2 separate regions of the Homo sapiens genome follow, and region 1 is linked to region 2. A link means that fine-mapping ties the variant in region 2 to the expression of a gene that starts in the linked region. Tissue or cell type: whole blood. Region 2 holds a variant in brackets; the other region holds the start of a gene. All regions are shown on one strand. Distances are from middle to middle.

Region 1 (8,104 bases), 90 kb after region 2:
AAAATGCTGCTATATTAGACACAGATCTTTTCCTTAAAAAGTTAGGATTCTGGCAGAGAAAAAAGACCTGCCCCCAACTAAATATGTGTCATCAGAGAAAAGGGTATGTTTCTTAAGAGAGAAACAGAGCATACTAAGGAAATTCAGAGGAAGGAGAGACCCCTTCTAAACTGGGGGTAAAAGGTGGAATTAAACAGCCAAAGTTTCCTTCATCCTCAAATGGAGCTGATGCTGCTGTCTGTGAAAAACAGCCAAGTTTCCTGAAGGGAAGCCCTTTAAGAGGTGGTAGTGCAAGGGGGTTGTGGATTCAGGACTGGCACCACATGGTCCCTAGTTAGAGTGCAGGCTCTGCCCCTTGCTCCCGTGAGCCTTTGAGCAGGTTGGTCGGCTCACCATGCATCTGTTGCTACAGCTGTAAGATGTGAATATTAATAATGTCTCCTGCACCCGATTATTGTGAGGATGACATGAAGTGGTGTTCATAGAGTGCTCAGTGCACAGCTTGGCCCCAGCCCACATAAGTGTGTCCAGTATTGTCAGTTATAAGAAGAAATGAATGTGCCAGTGTTGCTATGGTTCTGTCTTCCGGGATTCTGTCACAGACGTAGAATTATTCCGTTCACAAGGGAAGTGATACAGAGTACATGTTGTTGAAGAAAATGATGTTGTTTTTATGAATGGGCTCCTTACTATTATTTTTGTTCAAGTAACAAAACATGATTCAAAGCACCCATCTTCAAGAGCCCAGCCTCATTTCCTGACACCTACTCAGTCTTCTGGAATAAAGGCTCAGCCAAACAATAGCCCTGACCTCCAGTCCCTCCAAACTGAGTGTTGCTGCTGAGAACAGGCCTTACAGCTCTGGGTGGGCTTTTGTTCATTACTCATCGTGACATTCTGGAGAAATACAGGACCCTTTTGACTTCCCGACCAATCTCTGACTTTCTTTCATTGTCACATCACCATTAGGGCAAAGGATGATGAAATGGTCAGAATTAGACAAGAAGTATTCAAATATTTTTCAATGTATAGTATGTGCCAGGCACATAACCCACACAAGAACCTTGGAGAGTAAGGCTGTTATTCTTCTCATTTTACACTGGGAAACCAAAGCACAGCAAGAAGGTCTAGGGACCAGAAGGAAGCCCACATCTCTCTGAGCTGTGAACGGCTGCTCTCTGTGGGTTACCAGGCTGGTGTTTTTTTGTTTTGTTTTGTTTTTTGTTTTTTGTTTTTTTTTTAAAGACAGAGTCTCACTGTCGCCCAAGCTGGAGTGCAGTGGTGCAATCTCGGCTCACTGCAACCTCCATCTCCTGGGTTCAAGCAATTCTTCTGTCTCAGCCTCCCAAGTAGCTGGGACTACAGGAACACGCCACCACGCCTGACTAATTTTTTTTGTATTTTAGTAGAGATGGAGTTTCACCGTGTTGCCCAAGCTGGTCTCAAACTCCTGAGCTCAGGCAATCCACCCACCTCGGCCTCCCAAAGTGCTAGGATTACAGGTGTGAGCCACCGCGCCCGGCCAGGCTGGTGTGGTTTTTATTCCACAGCAGTCCTACGTCACATTGTCACATTGTTGAAAAGCCTTCAGATTGACAAACTCCCTCCTAATATAGCCTGTTTTCTTGGATGTTTTCTGATAAGCATCTGTGTTTTCTGAGAACTAATAAAAATTCTTGTTAAACCACAAATTACCACAGCCTCTTCCTTACCTATAGAGAGCCGCTTTCCCAGTAAAGCTCCGGTCCTACCTTCCCATCACCATCAAAGTGGCATTGAAACAGATCAGATCTGCTCCTTTTGAGGGAGTTAGTTGAAGCCCAGTCTTGCTTCAGGCCACACAGGATTTGGGTAGCAAAGCAAGGAAAGCAGCCTCTCTGACCTAGTGGCCTGAGTGTTTCCTTTCCCAGGCTGGCTGCGGCAACCACTTTGAGAAATGGCATTGGCATTGGCATGTGTGTGGCATGTGTGCTGACCTAGTTAGGAGTTGAGGCTTCATTTCTAATTCTGTCCCTTTCGTTTTGAGCTGTGTGACCTTGGGCATGTCACCTAACTTCTCTGTATATGTCTTCTTATCCAGGAAGGAGAGATTAATAATGTAGCCTCATAGCACTTATCTGATTCTCCTAAGGATGTTATGAGAATCAAATGAGATTATGTACAACGAGAGCAAACATTTATTCAATACTTAGTATGTACCAAATACTTTCAGTTTCCTTACATGTGTTTTTTAATTCTCACAATCCTAAAACAGAGGCACTAGTATCCCACTTGACAGTTAAAAAAACTGAAGTTCAGAGAAATTAAGTCAGACAGGACTCAGATCCACATCTGTGGCTCCCAAATGATGTTCCTAACCACTATGCATGTCACTCGCTCCCCATTGTACACGAAAGTAGAGAGATGTTCTTTGTCTTTACCATCAAGCACTCTCCAAATGCAAGAAATGATCTCTCGTAACCACTGCTGTTCCATGTTGGTCCCTAAGGACACTTATAGCCTGTTACTTGTTTGTCTTATCTTGTAGTTTATGCTGCTGCTTTTCATGTCCCTAAGGACTTGTTCAGTGAATTCTTTTGGTTTTACTCCCAGAGAATCTGTTCATCTCCTTCATAAAGGGGGTTAAAGGTGCCCAGCTGAGCCTGGCATCTTGGGCAGTGGCCTCTGACTTCTCCAGGGTTCTTCCTTCCCTCAAGCATGTAGTTGGGTAGCTTGTAGTAAAATGCTCTATAATGCATTTGTTTATAAGTTCCCCAGTCACTGATTTTTACTCATTGAATCTCAGAAGTGGAAAGCACCAAAGCCAGCATTTTGTTGATAGGGAAACTGAGGTCCAGAGAGGGATGTGACTTGCTTGAGGTCATTCATTCAGTTGAAGGCCTGACCAAGACTGGAACCCAGTTTCCCAGGGGACACACCAGTGCTGTTTCCAAGCCTTCCCCGGGGGCACACATCACCTCCCCTACATGAAGGACAAACTCATGTACTGTGCCCAGCATGTACCTAGGAGACCTGGGAGAAATGAAACAACTTGGAAAATTGGGCAGGAAGAAAGAGATGGGTGTGGGGTGGGGTGAAGATCTCCACCCTAACTAGTATATTATATACCAAAGAAAGGAATTAAACACACAGGAAAGCAGACAACCCACTAAGAAGCAAAGGAATTTACCCAGGAACCCTGGCTCAGTGAGTGGATAGGAAGCCTTTTGTCACTAAAGCTGCAGGGTTGAAAATTGAAGGAAGGATATTAGGCAAGCGTGGTGGCCTGGGATGCAGTTACAGCCCCCTGGCTCATTGTCCAAAGGAAATGGATCTCTCCTGTGGACAGAGAGGTGGAAACTGAGTGAGTGAGTTGTGTGGTTGACATCATCAGGCTGAGCATTGGATTACAACAAATGGGGACTTACTTGGCCCGAGACATGGGAAACACCCACTAAAACCTCAAAGTGCTTTTCATTTAGGAGACACGGGGAAGAGACAGAGAGGAGGGTAAAGTGAGAATCCTGCCCGCACCACAGGTCTGGACTGCTAACCTTGAATCCTGGTTTCTTAAATTCTGCCTCCGCTTCTGACTGAGGACCACTGGATTTTGAGGAAACTTTGGTCTTGTAAGTAGAACTTTACTCTCCTCCCCTGCCCAACACCCCCAGGGAGAAGCAGAGCTTGGAGGCAGAGCTCTCTGGAGAGCTTGCTTTCCAGCCTGTTGGCCACAAAATGTCTATTTTTATATAATGATATATGTGAGCTTGCTCTGAAAATTATGGCCTTGTCTGAAACTGCCTAAGGCTAGTCGGAGCCTCCAGTCTCACAAATGGGCTCCATTCAGATGCTGTTTCATTTTTACTCAAAGAACTTTGACAGAGTATTCAGAGCTTTAAAAGCAGCTCCTTGCTCCAAATATAGGTGAAGAAATAAATCTTCCCTAAGAAATTCGTGTTTGTAAAACCCTTTCTTTTTTTCTGATTACAAAGGTGGTATAATAATTTTTAAACATTCTAGAAAGAAAAGTCTCCGAAAGTAGTGAAAATTCCCTATTATCTTCCCCCTCAGGAACATGGTTGTTGTGTTAAATTTCAGTTACAGATATGGTCAGACTCCATGAATTTACCACATATAAACCCAGTGCTGCAGCAGCTGTGTGGAAAACTCCAAGATGGAAAGGGGTTGGAAATCTTTAACCTTGGGTTTGCGATCTTTTTATTGCTTCCTTTTAAAAATTTGCTGTTTATGCCTGGAATATAAACAGGACATGTAAGCCTTTAGGCATTTTATTTGTTGGTATCTGTTTTCAGGGTTTGAAACTAAGCAAGCTACTCTGTAGAGAGGGAAAGAGGGGGCCCTTGCTGTACCCAGGTCCCTTACTTGGTGGGTCCCTGAACTGAGGAGGATTCCTAGGTGGCTTGAGATGGCTTGCAGTGTGCTAACAGGGGAGGTGTCCCCTCTTAGCAGGTTAAGTATATTTGAAAAGTTACAGCTAACGGGAAGATTTCAGCTTCAACAAAAAGCTACCATATATTAGAAGGGTCACCCAAGGAAACTGTCACCTTGGGCAAGTGTTTCACACTCTCTGGGTCTTGTTTCTTTATTTGTACCTAATGAGGGGACAAAACTAGATGATCTCTGTATTTCCAAATTCAGTATGAAATGAACTGTCCATATTTCTTTTCCCTTTGTATTGGGCCCTTATGGCTTTAGGAGCAAAGGACCCTAGGTTTTCAGTTTCCCAGAGTAGCTAAAAACGGGTGCCTGTAGGACAGTTAAAAGAAGACATAAAACAGGCAACATTAAGTTACTTCTGAGTTTTTATGGGTCTTTTTCAGATTAGGTGTTCTTGAAGAAAGAGAAAGAAAAAGTCTCAGTGGTAACTGTATGTGCACACGCATACACTAGCACATACACTTGGGGAGAGAGGAAAGAAGGAATTGGCATTATTGAGTATCTCTTAAGCACTAGGCCCTATGTTATGCTCAACCCTTTACAGAGCACTAGATGGTCAGTATTATTCCCTAACCCCATTGACTGAGGACAACCATCTACTTATATGTTTTCATATTATCCTGAACTAAACTGTATTTACATAATTACTGGCATAACTTCAATTCCCCATGTCTCCACTAGACCATCTGCACCTTCTCTGCGTGTCTGTCTAGCCCATCACTATGCCCCACTGCCTAGTAGAAAGCCTGGCACATAGGTACAAAGGAGACACAACTTAATTTAAACTTAAAGCCCGCCATCCTAGTTCCTCATTTGGCAAGAAAGAGGGAGAAGAAGGGGGAAAATCCCTCTATTTGCCCCTCTTTCATCATTTAACATAGAGCCACCCTCTCCTGCCACAAGGGAAGGATAGCCACAGCCAGAGTGCAAAAAAAAAAAAAAAAAAGCAAAAGACGTCAGATCTTGAATTTTGAGTTTCCAAGGTGCCGGGTCTTGACAAATTAAGGTTTTTGCTTTGTTTTGTTTTGTTTTTGTTTGTTTGTTTTGTTTTCTTTAAGGGCATCAGAGACCCTAATCCTCAGGAAGTTGTGGTATTTAGAAACTATTTGTTTGAATTAAGGTCCTAGTTAATAAGAGGGTTCTCAAAGGCCCTTGGCACTTCTTTTTTTTTTTTTTTGAGACGGAGTCTCACTCTGTCTCCCAGGCTGGAGTGCAATGGTGCAGTCTTGGCTCACTGCAGCTTCCACCTCCCGTTTTTGTTCAAGGGATTCTCCTGCCTCAGCCCCTCGAATAGCTGGGATTACAGGCGCCTGCCACCACGCCCAGCTAATTTTTGTATTTTTAGTAGAGATGGGGTCTCTTGGCACTTCTAAAGCTGCAGTCTTCCCCAGCATTTCATCCCATGAAGGTGGACTGTTGCTGCCATGGACCCACCCATGGGCATGGGCAGTGGGAAGGCCAGGGCATCCTCTGCTTCATCCCAGCCCCGCTGGGATCTTGAGATTTGGGGTAATCAAAAAAGGCATCCTTTTTCCTAAGGTGGTGGTGAGGAGGTGATGTTCTGGAAGGAAGGTACCTAGACTTTGTGGTCCCTGCCAGGAAGTGGAGAGTGGAAATGTGGAATGCCTCACACTCCTCAACTAGGTAGGCCTTCATGTACCAGATGAGGGTGGCTTTCAGTTCTTGTTTTGTGTGTCAAAGTTGCTCCTGTTATCAGTGTGTGTTTGCTGATCTCTCCCACCTCAGTCACTCCCGGCAGTGAGTTTAGGGCATCTTGGGAGTGGAGGTAGGTTGTGGAAAAGATGTGTCCAGAGATCTCATTTGGCTTTGGTATCTTCCTGAAATAAATGTCACACACAGGGCTGGGCATCTTGCATATGCTGACTTCTCTTAATCTTCACAGCAATGATGTGAGGCAGAGATCATCTCCATTTTACACCTAAGAAAGGCACAGAGAGGTGCAGTGGATTGCCCAGAGTCTCACAGCTGGCAGGGGCTAGAGCTTGAGTTCCCAATGAGAACTGGTTGTCCCCGAAGCCCTTGAATATTTCACCATACTGCAGTGCCTTTTTCATATCACCTCCCTGGATCTCAGTTGCTCCATCTGTTAAATGATGACAAGTGAACTCTAGTCAGAAGTCAGAGTGGTGTTTTGTTTTTAATTTGAATGCCTTTAGGCAGGTGTGTTCTCCAGTTCATTACCATTTGCGCATTCCCCTGTGCCCTCTAGTCTCCTGCCTGGCCCCTGGCCCCTGTGGGAATTTGCAGCCCTGCATCTGGTTGGTGTCTACCGTTTCTTTCGATTTAGACAATCTAGAGGGCAGTGAGAAATTGGAAAGGGGTAGCAGGTAAGAGCTCTCGAGTTCAGTGAGAAATTGGAAAGGAATAGCAGGTAAGAGCTCTAGAGTTCAGTGACAAATTGGAAAGAGATAGCAGGTGAGAGCTCTTGAGTTCAGTGAGAAATTGGAAAGGGACAGCAGGTGAGAGCTCTCGAGTTCAGTGAGAAATTGGAAGGGGATAGCAGGTAAGAGCTCTGCTTTCACCGCCTCCTAGCTGGGAGATCCTGGACTGATCACCTCACTTTATAGAACCTACTTCTCTTTCTGTCAAGTGGGGGGTCACAGTCATACTGACCTCAAAGGGGTGCCATGCGGATGAAATGAGATAGGGCTCATAAAGCACTTAGTTAGTACAAAAATACATGCTTAGGATTAGCTGCTCTCAATTTCCAGAAAGAGAATGTCAGCCAATGTACACAGGCATCTGCCCCCTCAGACATAGGATGGCATTTGCATGAGGAACCAGAAGTTATCTTTGAACTCATCATTTTGAAACCCCTGTGATGAACCCTGGAGCTGCCATGTTGGCTCTTCAAACCAAGCCTCAGCATTATTTCCTGTCACCCAGTCAAGTGATGCTGAACCTCAAATCAGCCAGCCAGTGCTGAGGCCAAAAGCAGAAGTGGGTGCTATTCTCTTGGGACCAGAGGACCCTAGCCCAGCCACTTAAGGAAGAAGCTGGTAACAGGTGCTGGCTGTGACAGACAAGAAGCTGAACTGGCCCAATTAACTCTGCCAAATGCTTTCACGAGGGGCCAGAAGCAATTCCTAAGTGGAGACTGAGGTGGAAAATCTAAAGTTCTGGGAAACAGGTTATTAATCATGACCCTAGGCTGAGCTCACTACCTCCTGGAAATCCTTCAGAAATGTCTTAGGAAAACTTGGAGTACTGCTCCTTCAAAGAGTGGTTTCTTTGGAAGTTGCCGTGGGCTCCTATGCTGACTGATTATGAATTGCAGATTAGAACACATAATGTATCCGCTCTTACTGGAGGAAGCTGCATTTCCAAAAAGAAGTCTCTTTAATGTTTCAAGAAATTACAGGCTTTAGCTTGACTCTTCAGAACTGAATAATGGCCCTTCATGGCACCGAAGAAAGTATTTGGTGTATTCTTACTATGTCCCAGGAACCTAGGTCAGTTACTGTTTTAGTACTTTATCAGTGTAGTCTTTAACATTCCATAAATGTACATTGAGGACCTGTTAGTACTAAGCACTGAACTAGAGGACCAGGGTAAAGACACTGCCTCTGGTCTTGTGGAATTCTCTGTGCAACAAGGGAAGATAGACAGAGGAGTGAATAATTTTAATGGCACGTGAAAAGTACTG
Region 2 (8,096 bases):
TGGGTCTGACTTGAACTCTCTCCACACAAACCTTCCAAGAAGCATCCTCCCCAAGGAGTATGGGGGCACGGCTGGGGAGCTGGACACTGCCACCTGGAACGCGGTACTGCTGGCTTCAGAAGACGATTTTGTGAAAGAGTTCTGCCAACCTGTTCCTGCCTGTGACAGCATCCTGGGCCAGACGCTGCTGCCCGAGGGCCTGACCTCAGATGCACAGTGTGACGACTCCTTGCGAGCTGTGAAGTCACAGCTGTACTCCTGCTACTAGCCCGTCCCCCAGGGTCACCATCTTTAATTCTTTTCCTTCTTTTCTTTGGAGAGGCACAAGGAGAATTTAAGGGTCCATGGATTCAGTCTTGCTCCTTGTAATTAAACTGCAGGATGGAGGAACAGCCTGAGATATGAGCATGAGCCCATTTTGGGGTAAGCCTTTGGTTACTTTAATTACTCCATGGAAGACATGGAAAATGTCCCCACTGATTCTTAAACATTTGGAATCCCAGTCTGCAACTATTAATCTGGAGGCTATATCTATTTTGTTTTGCTTTTTGGTTGGGGGGTGGTGATCTGGTTCTTACACATCTTGGAAGCAAGAACAATCAGGACCAAAGTCACTTTGATCCCACTTTTCCAGGAGAAAAACCACCTGTTTGGCCAGTGAGAACTACTTGTATGAAATAATTTGGCCAAACCTTCAGTGTGACCAAATGTGAGACTGGGAGTTTGTGTTTTTCACAGGAACCCTAAGTATAGACCTCTGCTGCTCATCAGGAAACTTACTGGAGATGAAGGCCCCAGCTGTTGTCACCGGGTTTGGAAAGCACCTTAACTGAATCATGTAAGCATCAGGACATAAGCAGCACTTTGTGGTCAAATGTGGAAGCCGGAGACTTCAAAGCACCTCTGGGACCCACTGGTTGAAGTTTGCAATAGAAACTTAAGTTTTCCCAAATCCATAAAGCCTTAGCCCTGGTTCTCAATAGAATCAGGGACCTAGCAGGAAATGATTTTACTCAACCTAAAATGCTGGATCCCAGGCCCGTGTAGCTATAAGAATTCTGGCCTGGATCCCAGGTGTACAACTATGGACAAGATATGGGCCTCTACTTTCTCCTCTATAAAATGAGGCTGGATGAAATGTCAGCTAGGGCCATTTTGGCTGCTGAGGCTCTGGGATTTGGTTTAGTTACTGAATGTTAGATTTTCTGCCTAGAAAGATAACTATCTAGATACAAGTGGTTGGATCCTGTTTTTGTTTGTGGTACATGTGTCTTTCCAAGAGAGATGTGTCACCAATTAGCCCTGCCTTTAAAGAAACTATTATGTGTATTCCTGGGACTCACTGACACCAATTTTCTTTTTATAGTGATGGTTCAATTTTGAAAAGATGGCTTTTGTGAGGCCAGGTTAAGGTGACCAGGATCTTGTATGATGAATTCCTTCCATCCCTGAGACTCTGGTACTATATTGTAAACCTGGCTACAGTAGTTAATTACTTGAGATTCTTTAATTTTGGTCTCTGAGCTGGGCGTGGTGGTTCATGCCTGTAATCCCAGCACTTTGGGAGGCCAAGGTGTGCGGATCACAAGGTCAGGAGTTCGAGACCCGCCTGGCCAAGATGGTGAAACCCCATCTCTACTAAAAATACAAAAATTAGCTGGGCGTGGTGGCGGGCTCCTGTAGTCCCAGCTACTCGGGAGGCTGAGGCAGAAGAATCACGTGAACCCAGGAGGCAGAAGTGGCAGTGAGCCAAGATCGCACCACTGCACTCCAGCCTGGGCGACAGAGCAAGACTCTGCCTCAAAAAAAAAAAAAAAAAAAAAAAATTTTTTTTTTTTTGGTCTCTGGAAATGAACACAAGGGCAGGTTATTCCTGGGTCACTTCTGGGCCCCCCTGCCCTCCCAGCCCCACTTGAGTTTCTCTCTCTGGTGTGGGTGAACCAGTCAGCCTGAATGTTCTGCATTTCAGCACTTTAGAACCTCCCTGTGAAGATTTTAGCCTTAGCCCAAACATCAAATTAGACGGTTCACATGATGGTTTTTGACCTATTTCCTTTCTAATGTATTCCACATGATCATGGTGTTAAATAGTGAAAAGTACTGTGTTGTGTGTGCACCTTCTCCGTGCATTTATTAGACTAACCAGTCAAGCAGACAGCTCAGTTAGGGAGAAAACAATACTCTGAAATTTGAAGGCCAATCTGTTGTTACTAAGCTGTTTATCTCTATTGCCTTTTTAAATGTCTGGATAAGTTGTTGGTGGAAATTAAGTTACTTAACCTCATTAATACCAATTCTAGAGAAAGTTCTTTTCACCATGGATAGTAACCCTGGATCCTCTACGGTACTGGCTGAGCTGGAAGTGCCAAAAAGCACTCCTGGCTGCTTCTGGTTCCATCTGATGATGATGTGACACACACTGCTGAAAAGGCCCAAGCAGGGCAAGTGGGATGGCTGAAGGAGGGAAGGAGGGGGTTCAGAACCCACTGGCCTGGATGGGAGAACTGGGTGGAGGCTTCCCCAAGAGGGAAGACAGATAAACAAAACAAAACAAAAACTGGGTAAAGAGGAATGAATCACTCAGCCCTGATGTTTCAATTCTACACTGCATTCCTGGCCAGTCGCATTTGTTTTAATGCAGGCATGGCCACAGCTCTCCTAGAGAATTATCTCAAAGACCAGAAGGGACCTGGAGAGGCCTATTTCTTAGGTTTTTCCAGTTGGACAAGGAAGGAGTGGTTTCACTCAGCTTCTAGAAGGAGTTGGAGCCTAAGTTTATCTGCCTCCGGGAGCTGCTTGCTTTGTTTTGGCTCCGAAGAGGTATCAGATAGTTTTGACACCTCAGGAAACTTGAACCAAGCTGTGAAACCAAGACCTCCCTGCGTGAAAATCAAGGTGGTCTCCTTGTGGCTTCACCAGGATGTTTGTGTCAGGCTGTCTCAGCAGGGTGGGGAATGACCAGCCAGGGAGCACAGTGAGCCTTACTCAGCACTGGGGAGCGCACTGGTGAGGCAAACCCATGAACCTCAAGAACTGGGAGTATGTTCCTTCAGGGAGAAGTTCTGGCCCATTGCACAAACACTTGGAAATTAACTTTTCCCTAAATTCAAGATAGTGTGGTGTCGGAAGGAAATGGGACAGTAAATTAGGAGACGCGGGCTCCACCTTTACCTTACTACGTGGCCTTTGATGAGCTGGCTTAACATCCCTGAGTGATTCCATGATAGAGATCTATACTCCAAACTTTATTCCTGGTATCTAGTTGGCTTCACTGCCACAGACACTGTACTCTCTCTTTTTAGAAGTTTTTTTCCTTTTTTTTCCCCCTCAATTGGCTTATTTAGTAAATTTAGGTCTGAATGAATTGGTACCTAAAAGCTTCCAAATCTATACATTTCAGAATATGGGAATTTTCTTCCTCTTCTTCCCCCATATCCCAACATGGAATTCTGGAAAACTGTGCCTCTTCCCCTGTTCTGCCTTCATGGGGGAGAGACTGGATGAAATCTACAAAAACAGCCAAAAGTGCCACCCTGGCTTCATGTCTTGAATTTCTAACTTGCTCTTGGCAAAGGTCGCTTTATTTTTTAATTTTTTTCCTTGCATTTTCTTTTTTATTCTATTGCTGCTGCAAAAATTAAGGCAAAAGTAGCTTTCGATCTTTCATATTTCATCCTGGTTTCACAAGGAGTCACTTATCTTAGGAGGTCTGTAAGTCAGGTTACAAGGCCGGGAGCGGTGGCTCACACCTGTAATCCCAACACTTTGAGCGGCTGAGGTGGGTGTATCACCTGAAGTCCGGAGTTTGAGACCAGCCTGGCCAACATGGTGAAACCCCGTCTCTACTAAAAATACAAAAAATTGGCTGGGCATGGTGGTGGGTGCCTGTAATCCCAGCTACTTGGGAAGCTGAAGCAGGAGAATCACTTAAACCCAGGTGGCGGAGGTTGCAGTGAGCCGACATCGCGCCATTGCACTCCAGCCTGGGTGACGAGTGAAACTCCATCTCAAAAATAAAAATTGAAAAATCAGGTTACAAAACACCATTTTTCCCGAAATAAGACAATAAGAGGCTTTTCTCTGAA[T/C]TCCTTTATATTGAGCCTTTCAGAATTCTCCCTGGGTGGGCAATTTCTTTAAATAGTATTTGACCCTCAGATCAATCCTGGGAATTTTTTTCATTTGGGTAGCAAAAGCTAGAGTATTGCTGTGGCGATTATAATACTTTTAAAAAGTTTTACCATTTTAAAGTTGCCAACATTTAATTAAGGTTTTCCTTTGAAGCCTCCTTTAATTTAGGGAGTAAAATGTTAGCTAAACCAATTATATACTATATACTATACACTGTATCTCCTGTGGCCATGAGAGGTGTGGCTATACCGAACAGAAACATGCCTACTGTTCAGGAAAGATGTCAGTTCTGGTAACACCTCTCTGTATTGGGATCTGTTAATTTTGTAAATCTAAATTCTTCTGCTCTTGGCCAGGTGCAGTAGTTCATGCCCTGTAATCCTAGAACTTTGGGAGGCTGAAGGGGGGGCGGATCATTTGAGGTCAGGAGTTTGAGACCAGCCTGGCCAACATGGTGAAACCCCATCTCTACTAAAAAGTACAAAAATTAGCTGGGTGTGGTGGTGCGTGCCTGTAATCCCAACTACTTGGGAGGCTGAGGCAGGAGAATCGCTTGAACCTGGGAGGCAGCGGTTGCAGTAAGCCAAGACTATGCCACTGCACTCCCGCCTGGGTGACAAAGCAATATTCTGTGTCAAATAAATAAATTCATTCTTCTGCTCTCCTGACTTAGAGAAATGGTTTGCTTAAAATGCTAGTAACAAACATCACAGTCAACAGGAGCTTGCTTCATGCGAAGGATCAATGTGATTTGTGGATGGAGATGATAGTGATGAAATTCCTGTTTCATGGGGCTGTTTTTCTTTTCATCTCACTGGGCAGCAGGTTTAGTGAGGCAGTGAGATGCTGCTGCTGTGGATTCTTGTAGCTATGCCTCGGCTTCTTGGCATATCAGGTAGGAACCTGTTACAAGTGAAATACTTGAAACCTCTCTGACCAAGAGCCTCTGATGGAGTGGGAGGTGAGCTAATTCTCTGACCAGCTTGGGGCACTGTTTCAGCCACTGGTCACATTCCTTGCTTCAAACTGAAATTCAGTTTGGCTTTGAGTATAGGGATACATGGTGGATTCATGTACTTCAGTGTTTGTTTTGACCAAAGTTTATTTTTCTAGTGCATTTTCTAAGTCAAAGTGGTGAAAATATGTAATAATTTTAGTATGCATGACTCAGTCTGAAACAATAAAAATCTCTGAAAAATGTGCATGGGGTTCTTTTGTGATGATGACAGTTTGGATAAAGGTTCCAAGGTTCATTATTCACAGCCCGGGTAGACCACCTCCTCTGCAGGTGAGGGAGGGAGGGGCACTGTGATAGGACAGTGCATTCTGTAGATGCGCTGGCTGCCTCTGAAGATCATACACAATTAGACTGCTGCAGTATGGAGAGGAGAATGCAGCTAGCTACACAGAGCAGTAGAGGTGATATGCAAATTTTTACATTCTTGAGGCCCAGCTATACTTCTTGGACTGGCCTTGAGTCTTTCCAGTGATAGCCAGCGATTTCCTCAATGTGCGCATGTGGGCTGGGCACACATGTGTTAAGGACACTCATAAATAATGTATTTTAACCTTCAGCTACCCTTAATGAAGCTGCATTACTGTTCCTGTTGGCAAAATGTAGCTTGCCCAGTGACACACAACTAGCCAAATACTAAGGATGGGATTCAAACCCAGGAAGTATGACAAGCCCACTGTTTTCTCCTGATGGCTGGAGACAAATAACGAGTCCCCAGATAGAAGAGAGAGAGAAGGCAGGACTCTTTCATAGAGTAAGAAAGAACCAGAAATTGACTTTTTAACTGGCTTCTTGAAAATACAAGCAGTGGTTGTTAACCTCTCTGAAACCCAAGTTGTAACAACATTTTATTCCAGAAGTAAGCCCAGACTCCTTGAGGGGTAACTGGAGCACGGCTTGCCCAACTATGGTCCCAGGCCTGCTAAGCTGTTTCTATGTCCCCTGTTTATTTGGTACTCTGTGCCCCAGAGTAGACAAAAACTAGGTCCCCATGGTAGATCTGGTGACTTGATGAGTCAGTTGAGAAATACTCTAACACAGGAGGTACACTTTTGATGATGCAACAGGTTAAGTACTTATATTGCAGCATAACCACCCCTTCAGGTCAGCCTTTCCTGAGGAAATTGTGGAACTTAAGTTCAGTCTGTTTCTCACATATAGAAAAATGAAGCTAACTGTTAAAATCCTTTTCTCTCACAGCAGTCTTATGAGGCCCTTTTCCATGAGTCAGTATTTTCTTGATGCCCCCTGCCCCCTCCTTACACAGTACTGGTTTGGTACCCATACACTCAATGGCAATAAAGTTTCACATTATCGCATTTAAAGGGTAAGTAATAAGACCCTTTAGGGTACCACTCTTCTGGGGAAAACGTTTTTAACCTAATATTCATGCTTTTTCCTGAGTAGGTGCCAGCCACTAGGGATAGCTGACCTAGTAAAAGACATGAGTCACTTGCCTTCAGGTGACTACTAACTTGTCTTTGTCAGTGATGGGTAGAGGAGCAAACACTCTGTGCCTGAGAGTAGACAAAAACTAGGTTCCCATGGTAGATCTGGTGAGTTGGTGATGAGTCATTAGTGAGCCAGATGACTCCCCTACATGTCTCTAATAAATCCTGTCTCTTATATTCTTATGGCCCAAGAGACACTGAGGTCTAATTGAAAAAAGAACTCTTAAGCCAAGCCCTGGGTTTCTCTGTTTCACCTCTTACTGAGTAACCATAGGCAAGTCACGAACTTCTCTAAGCCTCAAACTGATACGTAAAAGGAAGGAGGGAGGGAAATAATCACCACCTTACAGGCATGTGGATACTGTCTGTTTAATGCTTGGTACACCTACCCATCTATGTGGTTTCTATTATTCTTCTTCACCTGAGAACATAGGCATGGTGTGGCTTGAGTCATCCAGCAGTAATTAGGACATCACTGAGTTGGGTGCCTAGGTAACAGGACGGACAGACCAACACAACAGGAGTAAAGAGATGAACAGCAGCTTCCATTAATAAGCATAAGCCTACTATCTGTTATCAATCTGCACAGATCAAATGCACAACTCATTATGTGAATACTCACTTTAGCCTGAATGTGTAAAAACAGCCAGGTGCAGTGGCTCCCGCCTGTAATCCCAACACTTTGGGAGGCTGAGGCAGGTGGATCACCTGAGGCCAGGAGTTCGGGACCAGCCTGGCCAACATGGTGAAATCCCATCTCTACTAAAAACACAAAAATTAGCCAGGTGTGGTGGCGCGCACCTATAGTCCCAGCTACTCAGGAGACTGAGGCAGGAGAATTGCTTGAACATGGGAGGTGGAGGTTGCAGTGAGCCAAGATGGCACCACTGCACTCCAGCCTGGGCAACAGAGCAAAACTCTGTCTAAAAAAAGAAAAAAGAACCAGTTACAGATTTCTTTGTTCCTTCTCCATTCCTCACTTGGCTAGCCAAAAAGAAAAAGAACAAAACCTCTATACTGAGAACCAGGTCCATGGCTACTCTTTGGCAGGCAGTTTCTTTGATTACCAAGAGAAAGTTTTACTTCCCAACCAGATAACCCGCAAGACCAACCTAGAAAATAAAGGAGTCCAGCATGGACCTAGAAGCTTTCTCCCGGCTTTAACGAGGTAAAAGTGGCAGCCACTGCTATTGCCTTTGATGAGTTCCTAGAGCATGTCCCTGATCTGAAAGCCAGGGCCCCAACCCGCATTCCCCAAGGCTAGGCAAGCCCTTTCATAGTGATGAAACATAAAGGTACTCATCTGGAATGAAAGGCCACCCTGAGATCTGATGACTCAAAATACTCCCCTGCTTTAAATGATGATCCTGGCCTTATTCAGAATGCTGTCTTACTCATGCTTGTATATAATTCAGCATTCACATGTATAATTCACTTGAGTCTTGATTAGACTACTGGTTTTCCTACTAAGAGGCAGACTTCACTACTTCTTAAGGTAGGAC

What was found. PIP is the estimated chance that this variant, and not a neighbour inherited with it, causes the effect.
Region 1: PKIG starts here. The variant in region 2 is fine-mapped to the expression of PKIG in whole blood (INTERVAL, PIP above 0.99).

Annotation. Positions count from the first base shown.
Region 1 is chr20:44,579,124-44,587,227 of GRCh38, forward strand. It overlaps PKIG (cAMP-dependent protein kinase inhibitor gamma), which reads left to right and starts at 3,456. Exons shown (of 4, transcript NM_001281445.2): 1 at 3,456-3,608. RefSeq lists an enhancer at 397-536.
Region 2 is chr20:44,489,274-44,497,369 of GRCh38, forward strand. TTPAL (alpha tocopherol transfer protein like) reads left to right here. Exons shown (of 5, transcript NM_001039199.3): 5 at 1-5,330. The coding sequence ends at 268. It also overlaps a transcript of SERINC3 not described here. Among named protein-coding and RNA genes, the nearest start is that of TTPAL, 17 kb to the left of the region's middle. RefSeq lists enhancers at 722-831, 6,915-8,096. The variant T/C (reference allele first, on the strand shown) is at 4,086.